Linked DNA regions of Homo sapiens: region 2 is linked to region 1. Evidence: fine-mapped expression QTL. Tissue or cell type: lung. Region 1 holds a variant in brackets; the other region holds the start of a gene. All regions are shown on one strand. Distances are between the middles of the regions.

Region 1 (8,323 bases):
GGTGAAAGAAAATGCTCACAACATATTCAATGAGAAAAAGGAACAAATGTGAGAAGGAATGAGTCAATGTTTATAAAACAAATTACGTAGAGATACACCTAGAACAAAAGACCAAAAAGATGTTCAATGTTATTAGTTGTTACAGGTGCATTCTATTTTTATTTCTGCACTTGGAAAATTTTCAAATTCTCTAAAATAGATATGTGTTAACCCCCCAGAAAAACAAACAATACGTGTTTTTCAAAATATGCAGAGAGTACAGTATCAACAGGTTTACCACAGACTTTTTATAAGCAATTCAAAGCATATCCAATAGCTCTTGGAATGACTACAGCATTTTGTCAAAGAGAAAATTCTTATTCTCAAGGCTCACAAAACCCAGACTCTTACAGACCCAACCATTGGCAAAGACATGAACTTGGGTGCCCCATGGAGACCATAAGGCTACCTTGGATAGACCGAATCTATTGGAATCCAAGTGGATTTTGCAAGAGCAGCTGCCCAGCTGAGAACAAACAGGTTCCATATTAATGCATGCTTTTCCATTTGAAAGGTGGCTAGATGAGCACCACCATTAAATGGCCAAACAAGCAAAAAAACTTAGAAGAAATGTCAATGGGAAAACATCCAGGTGATTAATGCGTAAAGAATTTAGACGCCCAAAAGAGGCTAAAAGAGGGGAAAAAGAAAGCTCAACACCTTTCTTCCTCCTCTCCCTGCGATTCCTTTATCAGTAGAATCACTAACAGCAGCTGGGAGAACAAACCTCACATCACAAGGTATAATCGCCGGTGGAGTGTCTCACATTAGTAACCTATTTGCAGATGGTGTTAGATTTCGCTCATCAGCCTCCTTTCGGAGCACCCCCACAAATGGCCTATCTACTTGAGCACAAATATCAGGCGACAAAACTAATTACCCCAGATCTGAATTGGTAGCAATGCAAATATCGAAGCTGCCCCCTGCTCACTCTTGCCTTGCGTTGAAACAAAGGAGCCGATAGGATCCTGAAGGGGACTGAGAATGAGCAGGTCTCTTTCCATCTCCATACGATCACAGGAAATTAGACAAGATCATTTCACTGGGCTTTAAAAACACATTACATTGGTCAATTCCCTCTTGCTGGCAGAGAGTCAGATCATTAAGATGCAGATATCACCTGGAATGTTCTTTTTCTGTCAAACTACACTCTTGGATCTCCCCAAATCCATTTTCGCGAACTAGCAAAAACAGTAGACATTTTATCTGGGGCCACAAATAAGCCTCAGATGGTGCTCAAAGGTGGGGGCACTACAAGGAACCCCCTCCTCTTTTCCTGTTTCCAAGCCCCACCTCTCACATCTGCTGCTCCCAGCCCCACTGCCCGGCCAGCTCTAATTAAGCCCCTAGCTTCCTACCCCCAGGCTCAGCTCTGCCCCATTTAACATTCTACTGTGAGCATTTTCCATCATCAAAGTCTTTGAAAACATTTTCAATGGTTGTATTATAGTCCACTGTATGGCCGTGGCATAATTTAACCATTCCCACATCATAGGACATTTGAGCTTGTTTTTCGGCCAAATTAGGATGAGATAAAGCTGCCACCGGGACTGCCAGGCAGCCTCCACACCACTGGCCTTTCCAGAGAGGACGTGCTTGGCACTTCAGAGCAGGCAAATACGGCCAGACATCCCCAGATTCACCTCTCTCGCCACCCTCAACATTCAGGAGGGAAGAGAGGATACCATTCCCTGCAAAGAGTTCTCTGGCCTCTGCAGGTCTGGGTCAGATCAACTTCCAAACAATTTCACATCCATCAGACCTCAATACTAGAGGGAGAATTTGCTTCTCCATCCTCACAATGGTTGGAAGAGACCATTGCTCCCCAGGATTCAGCCCCACGGGGATATGGGCCATGACTGGGCATGGCTGCCTGGCATCTTCAGGTGGCTCTCCAGGGCTGTGGTTCTCAACCAGGGGTGATTTTACCCTCCAGAGGACATACGGCAATGTGTGGGGACTGTGTGTCACAACTGAGGGAATATGGGCTGTTGGCATCTAGTGGGTAGAGGCTAGGGATGCTGCTAGATATCCTACAATGCACAGACAGATCCCAACATGAGTAATATCCAACCCCAAATGCCAACAGATCCAAGGCTGTGAACCCCTGCTCTAGAGTGAAGTCAGAATTCCAGCAAAACCCCTGCCAGGCATCTGCAGAGCTCAGAGCTGAGGGGCTAACAGTACAGACGGTTTGAGTTCAAGTTACACCCACATCCACGGGCGAGACAAGCGAGAATGGATGGACAATCTGGGAGCCAAAGGCTCGCTCCGTTGGGCAGATGGCGGTTTGACTTAAAGGCATGACATCCAGGGCACTGTTCTTGCCCTACCTGAAATCCCTAACTCCAGAACCAGGTCACAGGTCGACTTCTGTGGCAGCTTTGCCAAGGCATCTCTGAGGGTACCCCTGAGAAATGCTGTATCCCAGAAGGATCCAAGGAGAACTTCCCTCCCACATTGGACAGGTCAGCTGCCCCGCTCACCCACAAACCCATCCATGCCTCATCCTCCTCCCTGGGGGTTCCCACTCCTTCTTTCATGCCCCCACATCCTCTCTTGTGGATTCCAACCCTGTGGTGTCTCTTAGACCTACTCCCTTCTTTATTAGCTCTCATCCTCTCCGTGCTCCAGAACATCCTACCTGCAGCTATAAAGTGCCACACAAGCCATACCAGCCCCTCCCACCCACTGAAAAAAGTCTCAACCTTGAGGCAGGCATTCAAGCTATATGGCTCTGATGACTGGAGGGACACCAGGGTTCTTGGTCTCGTGCCGGTTTAGACATGGACACATGTGGGGTGATTTTAAGGAGTGAAAAGTTTAACAGGCAAGAAAGAAGGAAGGAAGAAGAAAACAGCTCCCCGTACAGAGACAGAGGGAGGGGGGATTTGAACAAAGAGAAAACCCCGTGTGCAGCGGAAAAGTGGCTGCTTATATTGGGATGCTGGAGGAAGCGGTGTCTGCGTTCCATAAGGCCCAGGGGATTGGTTTGACCAGGTGTGTCATTTACGTAGCCCTTGAAAAACCTGGCCCTCCCACCTTAGTCCTTTAATATGCAAATGCAGGTCATCATGATGTTCTGAACACATGGTGTTATCTGGAGGTGGCCATGACACTCGGTACACCTGGTAACAAGGAAAAGACAGTGGGAATCACCATATTGAGTGAACCCAGTTGCTCTCTTTTTTTTTTTGTTTTTGAGACAGAGTCTTGCTCTGTCGCCCAGGCTGGAGCGCGGTGGTGTGATCTCGGCTCACTGCAACCTCTGCCTCCTGGGTTCAAGCGATTCTCCTCCCTCAGTCTCCTGAGTAGCTAGGCCTACAGGCAGGCGCCACCACACCTGGCTAATTTTTGTATTTTTAGTAGAGACAGTGTTTCACCATGTTGGCCAGGATGGTCACAATCTCTTGAACTCATGATCCGCCCACCTCAGCCTCCCAAAGTGCAGGGATTACAGGCATGAGCCACCGTGCCTGGCCCTTTAAGCCGCCTTTTCTGTTAGAAAAGAGATGGTTTGGGGGTTGTTTCTTATTACAGGAAAATTTCCACCCAGAACCTTACTTTCTGCCTAAAATAACTTCTTAATAACTCTTGTATCACAAAGCCCTCTGCAATTTGTACCCCCTGACCTTTCACAGCCCCCCAAGTAACCCTGCACGCTGGGCCACCTGGGCTGCTTTCCTGCCACCTGGTTCCTGCTCAGCAGTTGCCTCTTCTTGGAACACACTCCTTAATCCCCTCAGCCACCTGCCAACACTGCCCCACATCCTCCAGTTCCAACCCTTCCCAAAAGTTGCAACCATCTTCCTTTCTCAGCCTCCTTCCAAGCCTTCTTCACCTTCTTCAGGCACTGCCCTTACTCTGCCACCAGTGAGAGTCACCTGCCCCTGGCTGTGCCCACCGTCTCAGCATTTGCGTTTTGCCAAGTCCCACTAAATATGCGCTGCCAATACCCACTTTAAACTTTAAAGCTGGAAATGATGACTCTGTTCCTCACAGCTGCAAATGTTGCAGCCCTAAACAATGGAACTCAGGAAACACCACCCTCCCAGTCCCATCTGACCACGCAGAGGCAGCCCGGATAAGGATCAGGTGTCAGCACTGGCTCCAGTGTT[G/C]TGAGTGCTGAGGACAGAGGCTGTTTCTGAGAAACCTGGATGCCCTTTCCATGTAGTTCTGACCCAAACAATTCACGACTGCTCCGGCCATAGCAGAGAAGGGAACTTGTCCTTGAAATGCGTTGTGAGGGGAGATGGACAAGGTGCTAATGTGTGATAGCACAAGACACCAAGAGCCTGCGTGTATCTTCTGGCACATGCTCCAGTGTGAAACTGCAGCAATCTGGATTTATGCCAGTAAATATGAAGGAAGGCTGAAAATACAAGTTGAAGAGTTATAAGCCTTTAAATTCTTGTCTGTAATCACAAATACAAACTCTCTGGACCAGCCGGGCACAGTGGCTCATGCTTGTAATCCCAGCACTTTGGGAGGCCAAGGAGGGCAGATTGCTTGAGCCCAGGAGTTCAAGACCAGTCTGGGCAACTTGGTGAGACCCCCCCCACCCCGCCCCCCTGTCTCTGCAAAAAATACACAAAAAAATTAGCTGGGCATGGTAGTGTGTGCCTGTAGTCACAGCTACTCAGGAGGCCAAGGTGGGAGGATCACTTGAGCCCAGGAGCCAGAGGCTACAGTGAGCTATGATCACACCACTGCACTCCAACCTGGGCATCAGAGCGGAACACTGTCTCAAAAAAAAAAAAAAAAGAAAGAACTCTCTGGGCCCTAATGAGGTACACAAAGGGAGGACCCCCAGAAAACTGAGGCATCTGCCTAAAATGCTGCTTTGAGCCCCCCAACACACACAAAATAAGGGTTACGAGGGTGCCTTGCCTCCCCCTCACACATCACTGATCGGGGTATAAAATGAATACAATCCTCGCCAAGGACAACCTGACAAAGTTTACCAAAATGATAAAGACACTCAGTCTTTGACCCAGCATCTCCAAGGAATATTTTTCTTACAGATTCACTCACACAAAGTGATCTACGTACATACACAGGTAGTCACTGCCGCATCGTTTGTGAAGGCTGGAAATAGGCGAAATGCTAAACTGGTTAAATAAATTATAGGACCTCCGTGCAATGGTAAAAAAGAATGAGAAAGCACTTTGTGTCGCGACGTGAGACAATCTCCGAGACAGGCTGTCCGGTGAAGAGTTCAGTGCAGAAGGGCGGGTGCAGCTCCTGCCCGGCTGCGGGGCTTGTTAGAGAATGGGCAAGGATGCAGTTGCTTGAATATTCAGTCTCTCTGGAAGTAGACATGAGAAGCCAGGACAATCCAGGCAAGGAAATGCATGGAGTGAGAGGAAGGCTTCCCTGCTATGCCCTTTGGCGTCTTCATTATGCTCCAAGTAAGCATGTTCCTATTTAAAACTAGTCCGAAACACTAATGGCTCATGGCCACAATGGCCACCCCTTTCTTTCCCTTCTCTTCCTCCTCATCTTCTCCGTCTCTTCCCCCTTCCATAACGCCGAATGGCAGCAGTGTGTAAAACCACGGGCTGTGTGTGGCGTCAGGAGCAAGGGCTGCAAAGCCGGCCGCTCTGTGCCAGTGTGTGGCTGTGTGTGGCATCAGGAGCAGGAGCTGCAAAGCCGGCCACTCTGTGCCTGTGTTTGAGGGCTCTCAGCTCTGCACACCTGCCCAGCCTCTCGCAGCAAGCAGGCATCTGAGTATCCCCCATTGGGAGCTACTGGGAGGATTAAAGCAGATAACCCCCCGCAGGAAGGCTCCTAGTGCCATGCCCAGCACACAGCAGGACTATCCAAGCTGGTTGCTCAAGGCAGGCCTGCCTCCAGCCTGGTCTGGACCACAGAGTTCCTTTGATTCCAACCAGAGGGCCTCTCAAGGGAACTGCTCTGAGCTGCAGGTGTGAGGGAAGCCCTAGGAGGGTGGCTCATTCTCCTGAGAGCACCAGCAGGGCCGGCAGCTGAGCGCGCATCCTTGCTGCCTCTACCCATCGCTCTGCTCCCATGAGGAGGAGAAGGGATGAGGAGGTCCCCAGGCCAGATGTCCGCAAATCAACAAACTGCCTTTTTGGCTCATTTAATTGTGTCGTGGGTGCCCTGATGCCCAAGACATCCTTGGCTGTGGCTTCGGAAATGCTGGTGACGCAGGAGAGCCACTTCAAAGGATGCACTTGGACAAGAAGAAAGCACATATGAAAGCCCCCTCCAGCCCCCTCCAAGGGAGGTGTCCAGCCCCCTTGTTCTCCAGCCCCCTCCAAGGGAGGTGTCCCCAGAGTGCGGAGGAACACATGAAGCAGGGAGAGCGGGAGTGGGGGGGTGCAGCAGAGGATGGCTGTGCTGCTCCTGCAGATCCGATCACATCTGCTGTCATTGAAGTCCACCCCTGCACCCTTCAACCCACAGCAGACTATGGAGCTACCTGAGTTCAAACCCTGACCCCACCACTTACTGGCTGTGTGACCTCAGGCACACGGCTCAAACCCTCTGCCTCAGTTTCCTCACCTGGAAAATGCAGATAATCACAGCACCTAGCTGTAGGGTTGTTAGGAGGATTAAATGAGTTAACCCATAAAGCGCTTGGAACAGTACCTGGCATGGAATGAGCGATCAACGAATGGCAGCTTCTGTTGATTGTCATAATCGTCATCATCATCCTGGCCAAGGCCATCCTCTCACCTTAGCCCTGTTCTATTACATTGCCAAGTATCAAAGCCACATTGAGGGTACAGCAATCCCAGCGCATGTGAAACAGCCCCAGCCCCAAGCCTACTGCCACCAAGGGCCATTTCTAGAGCCACAGCATCCACCCCAATCTGGAGTCTGCCTGACTCCAGCCCGAGATCTCAATGTTCTTTGGACACAGTCTGCTGGGTCTCCCCCAGCCTTGCTTCACACACTCCAGGCCCTGCTTTTTGCAAGCCACCTCTGGCCTTGACCAACTTTCCCCACCCCAGAGCTACCATGCAATGCGGGGTCAGTGGCCTTTGGTGCCTAGCCCTGCCCCTCCATGGGGTCACGCTCTACTCCTCAGCCCAGGCTAAACCAAAGATGCAAGTGTGGCTCCAGCCCCTGTCATCAGATTCACGGCCCAACACCGTCAGCACCAATAACAGAAAATCCATCAGCTATCCCCAAGTCCCGAGCCAGCATCTTCTGGCTTCCAAACCAAGTCAATTTAACATCTGACACTTGTGGCAAGAGTTCGCATCCAGAAAGGCACTCTCCTTTCGGCTTTACAAGCCTTGCTGACAATTCCCCACCCAGCCTCACATGGTGGACAGAGGCGAAGGGCTCCCTGCCGGCTCCCTCTGTGGTACCTGGTGCCTGCCTCCCATCCATGCCCCCTTCCTCTGCTCCCATCTGGACTGCCAGAGGGGACACCCGCAGCCCAGCACATGTGCCCCCCTCTCTCAGGACCACCACACACACTTAAAGGAAAGGGTTGTGAAATGATCACTTGGTCTTACTTTCTGGGAACAAAAGCCCGAGCAAGTCCCCACGGTCACATTGGCCTGTATCAGGGAGCTGGGGAAGGCATGTGTGATGTTCTCTGGCAGTCGGAAGCATCCGCGGTAGGTGGCGGTCCGCCCTGGGGGAAAAGAGAGGGGTTTCTGGTAAGAGATGGTGTCCAGTTGTTGGTGCCTGTCACCAGGGAAAATGCTGGCTTTAGGTCCTGAGACAGGTATAAATAAACTTACGAGGCGAGTTCAAATCAGGGAGGGAAAACGGCCCTGCATGGGACATAGTCATGCTGAGCTTCTGAGAGAAACCAGGCATCAGCACCTTGACCGTCCAGGGTCATCTACAAGGGACCACTTGGCTGAAACTGCAGCGCTCAGCTCTTGCTTCTGCCAGTTCTCCATAAGTCATTCCTTCCTCCCTTCCTCCCTCCCTTCCTCCCTTCCTTCCTTCCTTCTCTTGCTTCTGCCAGTTCTCCATTCCCTCCCTCCCTCCTTCCCTCCCTCCCTTTCTTCCTTCCTTCCCTCTCCCTTCCTTCCTTCCTTCCTTCCCTCTCTTGCTTCTGCCAGTTCTCCATAATGCCAGCCTTCCTGCCGGCCTGCCTACCTTCCTTCCTTCCTTCTCCTTCCTTCCTTCCTTCCTCCCTTCCTTCTCCTTCCTTTTCCTTCCTTCCTTCCTTCTTTCTTCCTTCCTTCAACAAATTTGGATGGTGCTTTTACTAGGTGCCAGATTCCTCCCATGGTAGGTGACCTGAGAGGCTGATATTGTGAAAAATTCAATGTCCTACCGGAAGATGCAT
Region 2 (8,323 bases), 29 kb after region 1:
TCTCACTTTTGAAACAGCCAGTCGCAACCTTTTCCAGCCTATCTCTGGGTTATCTCTTTTATTTTTATTTATTTTTCAAGAAGGAGTCTCGCTCTGTCGCCCAAGCTAGAATGTAGTGGCATGATCTTGGCTCACCGCAACCTCCGCCTCCTGGGTTCAAGCGATTTTCCTGCCTCAGCCTCCCTAGTAGCTGGGATTACAGGCACACACCACCATGCCCAGCTAATTTTTGTATTTTTAGTAGAGATGGGGTTTTGCCATGTTTGCCAGGCTGGTCTCAAACTCCTGGACTCAGGTGATCTGCCCACCTTGGCTTCCAAAACACCAGAATTACAGGTGTGAGCCACCACGCCTGGCCTGGGCTATCTCTTTTATAGAATCTTATTTTGTTTACTTATTCATGTGTTTCTTCCACCTGGTGCTGAAAGCTTAAGGGTCGTCTCAAGCCCATCCCAGAATCTGGAAGGTAAACAGGTGTTGAAACCCCACGGAGTGAGTTGGATACAGGTGGACAAGTGAGTGGAGTGCCCAACCAAAGTCAGACCTGCCCAACTTGATGCTGCCACTGGGCACTCGGGCTATGGGAGAGAGGCCAAGACAGCCTGCTGCACATCCTTGTCCTCAGAATACTCTCGACCCCCTCATGTCAAGGGAGCCACTCTCTAGAAGGGAGCTCACATCTCCAGGGGCTTCCGGCAGCAAAGGAAGGGAAGCGAAGTGAAGGGGAGGGGCCTTAACAGCTACCAGCAGGTGCACTGTATTTCATAGCTGATGAAATGAATCCAGCCCATTCTTCCATCCACTTCTCACATCCACACCAGGAGGCAGGGCATATGCAGAGTTCCTCCCTGACCACATTCTCCAAGTGGCACACTTCCGATAATTTTTCAGGCCGTATGTCAGCACGATTGTCAAAGCCATGATGAGGAGAGATTAAAGGAAGAATGTGAAGGCCAGACCAGGAGGCCCAGGGAGAAGGTGGTGAGCGGAAAGCCACATTCATTCCCTCATTCCCCAGATGAGCAGCCCTGGATGTTAGGGCCCAGCTCTGGCCCTGCTAGTGTATATGATTATCACCTGCATTTTAAGGCCTAAGGCCCTGAAGGTCTAAACACTGAGCTGCCCCAAAGTCCTTGGCCTTGACCTCATTGTACCTCCAGAGAAAGAGTCAGGGAGCTGGTCTCACCAAGGCTGATGGGGGTCTGAGCTGGATGGGAGTACAAGCTTGGAGCTTCTATAATGAGAAACACCACTTCCCTAGAGGCCCTGCTCGGAGGGGTTCCATCAGGGCCTGGAGGCTCTGGATTCAGAGGCTCTGAGTCGCCTGCTCAGGCTGATGCCATAAGGAACCAGCTCTGTGACTCATTCCCCAGTGCTCTGGCCAAACTGATCAGGTTGGAGGCTCAAGCTTCAGCAGCAGACCCACTAGTGGCACTGAATATCCACTTCTGCTCGGTTAGGAAGACAGGAGGAAGAGACAGGAGTCTGGCCTTCTGCCTTATCCCAGCTTCTCTTCACTTCCAACCAGACATGCCACAGGCCACAGGGCAGTACCCCATAGGGCACAATGCCCACTGAAGAGAGGGATCCCCTCACCCCAGAAGAAGGCATTTTTACAGAGGAGCTGTGGAAATGGCCCTGCTGAGGCCTGGAGGATGCAGCCACAGGTGAGAGCCTTCTGGCGGAGAAGATGAGGCAGTCAGGCTCAGCCACCAGCCCAACCACCGCCAAGCCTCCTTCAGATCCCATGCCTGGGAGAGCTCCTGCTCTTCCTCCTAGAAACCCTGAGCTCTGGCAGCCGGTTGAGGCCCCTTCCCGGAGGATCTCCTGAGGGCCAATCTAAGTGTGTGGGGGTGGGGGCATGATTGAGAGAGACAAACCTCATTCTCCCATAGCCCAAGGAAACCTCCCCTAGCTCTCTCCCCAGCACCTGCAGCCACCAGGAGTGGGTGATTGCAAACAGCGCAGGGCAAGCCAGCTTTATATCTCCTGTAACTTTCACTCCCCACCACCCTCACTTTCTGTGCCTGACAACCTAGGCAAATCAGAGGAAAAAAGAAAGGCCCCCACTCCTGATGCCAAAGTGGGATAAACCAAGTGCCTCCATAAACCTAAGCATGCTGTTCCAGCAACAAGAGGGATGCGGGTATCTCATGTTAGAAAAGTACAGCGGAGTCCTGCATCTGTCCATCTTGGGAGCTGCAGGGGCAGGGCCAGTGTGGGGAGCAGCTGGATCCCAGTGCAGGGCTATGAGGCTAGAACTCCTATATGAGCCTTCCCACTGCTCAGCGGAAGGAAGAGCGGTCCCCTTCCCCACCCGCATTCCCGATCAGCAGAGCAGGCATCATCCCAGGCGCACAAATGCTCAGGAAAACCACCAGCGAGGTTACCCGGAGGCAGGGGACCCAGCCAGGTACGTACGCTCCTGAGTAGCCAAGAAAAACGCAATTTAGCAACCTTCAGTCGTGAGTCTCCGTCCACACCTACGAAGACGCAAAGCTCTACACTAGGTAATTTTCTGGACAAAATACATACGTTTTGCTTTTGCCTCTGCCTCTGTTCAAGTTCACCAAGAGACGGAGCAAACCCTCCGCTGACCGGAAGCCTCTCTTGGTAGCGGAACGAGAGGGAGCTGCTTCTGGGTAAACGTCGCCGCCTAGGAGGGAAGCTGTGCGCACCCCACACCCTGCCCTCGCCCCCTCCCCGGGACCAACCGCAGCGCCCTCCCGGGTGACGGACGGGCTCTCAGGACTCCGGAGGGGGACGCGGCTCGTGCGGCGCCTCGCGCACCCCCACCCCATCCCGGCCGCGCCGAGCGCCGCCCCCGCCCCCCCACAACCCCTGCACGCACCCGCTCACTCTCCCCTGCCCCGGCCGAGCCGCCCCGGGCCCCCGGGAAGGTGCCCCCGGCAAGCCCGCCCTGCAGCCGGAGCAGGTGCAGCCCCGCCGCGCTCCCAACCGCGTCTGCACAAACTTGTTTGCCCGCGGCAAGGGGAACACCCTGCTCGCAGCCCGCGCGGGGGTCCGGCTGGAGCGCCGAGAGACAGGACTCACCCCGCGATCGCGGCCGGCTGGGGCGCCCGCACCCGCGCCCATGGCCCGCCTTCCCCGGGCGCCGAGCCCGCAGCCCCCCGCAGTGCCCGGAGCCCAGAAGCCCCGGCGCCCGCACGTCTCCGGCCGCCCGCGGCAAGCGGACCCACGCGCCCGGGCACAGGGCGCCGCCGCCTGGCTCCCCGGGGCTGCTGGCGTCCGGGCTGAACGGCGGGGCGGGCGGGCGGGCGCGGAGCCGGGGCGGGCAGCGGGCGGGCGAGCGGGCGCCGGGCTCTGCACATGCTCACTCGCGCGGCCCGGGGACAGCGGCCGGCCGCCGCCGGGTCCTAGAGGCGCCGGTGCGCACCTCCCGCCGCCCGGGGGAGGGGTCGCGGCTCCGCCGGAGGGGGCCCACGCCCTGCCCCGGCCCGCGAGAACACGCGCGCGGGGCGGGCCACACGCGCCACTGCCGAGCAGAGACGCCGCCACCCACTCTGATACACACACACACACACACACACACCAGTCACCCAGAGCCACAGCCTTTCACCGGGGCCCCACGGGCTCTAACACACGCACCATGACGCTCACACCCAGACACAGACCCACAAACACACGGGGCACTGCCGCGCAGAGGAGAGCACGCCGCCACTCTCCCATGCAGACTCACAGCGACAGCCGCACACTGCCTGACACACACATCCCGAATCACTGCTTCCCAGAGACACCGACACCCACACTCACACACACACTCTCTGGGCTCTGCCCCACTCACCCAGAAGCAGACTGGGCCACTGTGACAGGCACGCACACGTACACACACAGCCACACAGTTTAGAGTGCACTCTAATACACACACACACCACACACGCACGCACACACACACACACACACACACACACCGGATCACCGTCCCATGCAGAGCTAGAGACAGACGGTCACAGCTTCACACACATTCACACTCAGAAACAAGCACCTGCTGGAACACAGACACTCTCACACAATCTGAGACAGACCTACACAGAATTGCAGCCCTACAAATACCCTGACACCAGCTCCCGCGTCTACACACTCGGGGGTCGGCCGCCGGCTTATCATACTGCTCCACACCGCACACAGTGACAAACCCACGCCTTGACATAGTTGCCCACAGAAGCAATGTCACACACTGGTGTCTACTAACAGACACACTCTCAGAGGGGCATACTGGGCATTGACCCACAGGCTCTCTCTCTCTCTCTCTCTCTCACACACACACACACACACACACACACACACACACACACGCACCGAGGTGGAAAGAGGCTGAACAGTCACACAAGTCTATACACAATCCCCCTCTTTAAATAAAGGCTGGATCCAAACCTAAAGATTTTTCCCAGGGAGGAGCCCCACCCTGTTCCCCCAAAGCCGCCAAGTCACAGCATCTGCCCTGCTCTGCCATGTGCACCGGTGGACCCTGTCCTCACCCGGAGCTGGCTGCTAAGATGCTCCCAGAAGCTGAGGACAGCAGAGGCAGCAGGAGCAGGTGGTGGTGCCTCTTACTCCGTCTTCCTAAAAGGGAGTTTCATGCCTCCGACTCCCGCTAGGGGCAGAGCTGCTTGGCCTGGCTCCGAGGAGCTGGCTTGCAACAGGTGCAGGTGGCAGGGAAAGCGTTTGCCTGGGGACCAGTCACAGTCCCTCCTTACGCGGGTCAGTCAGGTGGCGCCCAGAGCGGGAAGAGACTCGCTGCAGTTTGCATAGCTATGTCTGGCCAAGTGCAGAATTAGAACAGAGTCTGCACCATCCGCATGAAGGCAGAATGCTCTGAAGGTCTTGGGGCACCTGGATTTAATATCCTTAAGCCCAGGAAGAGGATACAGTAAGTGAGAGACGAATTCTGTGCTGCCTCAGAGTCCCAACCTTGCAGAAAAGCCCCCTTCACATATATATCCTTTACAGAATGTGAATGTGTGTGTCGTTACGATTTATAACAGCAACCCACTGTGCAGTCTCGCAATGCTGTTTGGTTTGCAAAGCCCTCTCCATGACCAGCTACATAATTTGAAGGGCCTAAAATAAAAATGGAGCCCCCTTTTAAAACACTATCAAGAATTTCGAGAGATAAAAGGAGGATATTAAACCAGTACGGGTCCCTTCTGAGCACAGAATTCAGAGCCTTTCACAGATCTCATACCCATGAAGCCAGCCCTGGCCCTCTCGTACCCATTGTCCCACTTAAAACTGATAAGTCTATAGATGCCTTCATGTGCCCATTTGACAGATGAGGCTTTCAGGTGGGTGATCACAAAAGGCTCACAGCCAGTTGAGCCCAGGGGAATTCAAGCCCAGCTCCTCTGGGAAGCCAGACATTTCCCGGCAGCTGCTATTCAGAAGTGTCCATCTGCAGCAGCAGACACTTGGTACAGAATAATCAAGCAGAAGAGTTGATGTGGCTGCCACCAGGGAAGGAGGTGACTCAAGAAGAAAAAGCAAAAGGCTGCTGGGTATCCATGCCATCTGTGCTCGATGTCACGCTGCACCTGCCCTGCAAAGCACCCCACCAGGGGAACACCATACAGCCCCTGTGTGGGTAGAAGCTAGAGTCAACTACTGACTCTAGGGAGGGAGGTTGAGGAAGGAGGCGCATGAAAGAACCCAGGAAGTAATTGAGAAGGGCTTGGGAGTCAACACGGCCAGGAGTATTTCAGTGTCAGGACAAAGCCCTTCTTTCTAGTGATGGTGACCAGTAAGAAGTGATAGGGAGGACTGATAACAGAGTCACTCCTAATCACAGTCCAACTCCTTGTCCCTCAGCTCTTCTCTCCACATAGTTGGGACTGTTTCATAGTAACTTGTATACCATCCCTGTCCCAAAAGCAATTGGTCCCACAATGCTGCCATCATATGTCCATTTACTGCTGAGAAATGTATCCCCCCACCCCCCAGGAGTCTGGGACTAAGAATCAGACAGGTCTGATGTCACATCAATCCCATCTCTCTGTGTTTCGCTCTTGAGTCATCCGCTCCTCTCTTTGCAGACCTCAACTATTGGATCCTAGGTATTTACATCACCTCCTTACTTCACGTCATCTGATAGCTTATTCTTCCTTCCTTCCAGCCACCCATCTTTTCATGTATTTACTAAGCAAGGCACCCATTGTGTGTTAGATTTTGTGTTGAACACTGGAGAGTCTTTGATAAAAAAGAACCGGTCCCCTGCAGGAGTTTCCAGTGTGAAGAACTGGACGAGAAAACAGACCAAAGTGAAAACATACCACAAAGAGAGAGCTCTGCTGTATCAGTCAGGATGCCTGCAGCCTCAAGTAACAAATAGCAAAGTAAAAGTGGTGTCAAGCAAAGGGTTTATGATCTCAGACAGCAAGACGCCTGGAGGTAGGCAGTTCCAAGGTTGGGTGATTCAGTCACTCAATGATGTCAGAATCTGTGGTGGCCTCTCTGTGCTCCCTGGACCGCCCCCTCATGACTGCAAAATGACAACTGAAGCGCTGTTCGTGACTTCCCCAAATGACAATACCCTAAGGCAAGAAAGAAAGGGACACTTCTTCCCACAAGTTTCTTTTTTCACTGGATAAGGAAACTTTTGCCAGATCCTCCTTCTGGCAAGGCCCATTGGCCAGAAGTGAACCCTGTGAGTACCCCTCAGCCAATACCTGGCCAAGGAGGAATGGGTTTGGCTAATTATAATTCATCCTCTGGGGATAGGCCAGTCATCTCAGAGCGCATCCCCACTTGATCAAAATTGTTTCTATGTTAGTAGATGGCTGCTGGGATGGCAACTAGCTGTGATGATAGATAGATAGATAGATAGATAGAGAGATAGATAGAGAGATAGATAGAGCGAGCATTGGAACCTAAATGACTCGCAACCTCAGTGTGGAGGAATTCAGGGAAGGCTTCCTGGAGGAGGTGACATGTAAGCTGGCTTTTAGAGGAGAAGTGGGCATCATCTGGGTCACCAGGTGCAGGGGCCATTCCAGACAAGGGTGGGGGGCATCCTTTGCAAAGGCAGGGAAGTGTGAAACACACAGGCTGTCACAGAAACTGCCAGTGACTTTGCACTAGCTGGTGCAAGGTCAGAGGTGGTTGGAGAGGAGGCTGAACTGTGACTGGCCACTGAACCCCGACTAGCCACTGAACCCCCATTCAGGCCACTGGCACCAGTGGACAAGGCAGGGCTGTGGACCACGCTTGAGCCACCACTATGATGAGCTCCCTTCACGGTGGTCATCTAGTCATCATCAGCCGTGGAAATGGTCATTCAACCAGTTATGAGTCATCAGCCATCCTACACTTCTATGTCATGTTGACAAAGGCAGCCTGACTAGTCATAGGCATGGGGGTGACAAGCCCACGTGGGGGTGAGGGCCGGGCGTGGGGCTCATATCTCTCTCGCCTTGACCAAGTCACAATCTCTCTGGGCCTCAACACTGTCATCTGCAAATCAGAGAAAATGCCTCCTTTATGGGAGTGCTTGTAAGGACCAAATAAAATGTCTGTTGAGTGTGAAGCAAAACAACATTTGCCATGGAATACGCACATAACACATTTTAGTAAATATTACAAGAAGGGGTTTTCCCCAAAGCTTTGCTAAAATCCAGAAATGCCACATGTGCAATGTTCTACTGAGCCACCAAGCTTGTGATACGTTCTCTTCCTCCACATGCCACCGCCCCAGAGCCTGCCCTGTCATTCTGGCTAAAGCATCCACCTCACTGTCCAGTTTCCAGTCTTCATGGAACATTGCCCTATCATCTCTTTGTGTGTTTGTTGGTTTATGATCTGTTGTCTCCTTCCCAACCCTCACAGCCCCCACTGCTAGAATTTAAGCTCTAATATGGCCCGGGAACTTACTATCACATTCAGAACTTTATCCTTGGTGCCAAGTTGAATTCTTGGTACATAGGCATACTTACTAAATATTTATTAAATAAATAATTGTGTTTTTAAAAACATGATGTGCCTAGCATGACATATTTTTAATAAACCCAAGAAGGCTTCCCACAGTCGTCATGTTTCTTCCCAAGAATTCAAGAGGCTGCTTCCCCTTGCTCTGGTCACAGACTGATCCCTGTATCCAGTCCATTGGATTCTACTGGCCACCAGGGAGACCCAGAGGATGAGTGCGGATGGCTCACTGCACCGCGTGCCCCTGCCAGGGACCGTGGTGGGATGAGGAAGCAGGTGCTCCATCGACACCCAGAGGCACCTCAGTAATCTCCTTTACCCATGCAGCTTGGCTGTATGCTCCACCAAGATGTTGGCCCACAAGGTGACACGGGCTTGACTGTCT

Direction of the effects. Alleles are on the strand shown, and positions count from the first base shown. SD is a standard deviation of normalised expression in the study named.
In carriers of allele G in region 1, the expression in lung of the gene that starts at base 3,328 in region 2 tends to be lower than with C alone (small effect, 0.32 SD a copy in GTEx).

The links. PIP is the estimated chance that this variant, and not a neighbour inherited with it, causes the effect.
Region 2: it holds the start of WSCD1, and the variant in region 1 is fine-mapped to the expression of WSCD1 in lung (TOPMed, PIP above 0.99). The same link has a PIP of 0.9 or more in atrial appendage, left ventricle and skeletal muscle.

What each region holds. Positions count from the first base shown.
Region 1 is chr17:6,094,433-6,102,755 of GRCh38, reverse strand. WSCD1 (WSC domain containing 1) reads right to left here. Exons shown (of 9, transcript NM_015253.2): 5 at 7,533-7,654. Among named protein-coding and RNA genes, the nearest start is that of WSCD1, 28 kb to the right of the region's middle. RefSeq lists enhancers at 3,628-4,395, 5,029-5,927, 5,928-6,828. The variant G/C (reference allele first, on the strand shown) is at 4,158.
Region 2 is chr17:6,065,384-6,073,706 of GRCh38, reverse strand. It overlaps WSCD1 (WSC domain containing 1), which reads right to left and starts at 3,328. Exons shown (of 9, transcript NM_015253.2): 1 at 3,055-3,328. RefSeq lists an enhancer at 3,261-4,092.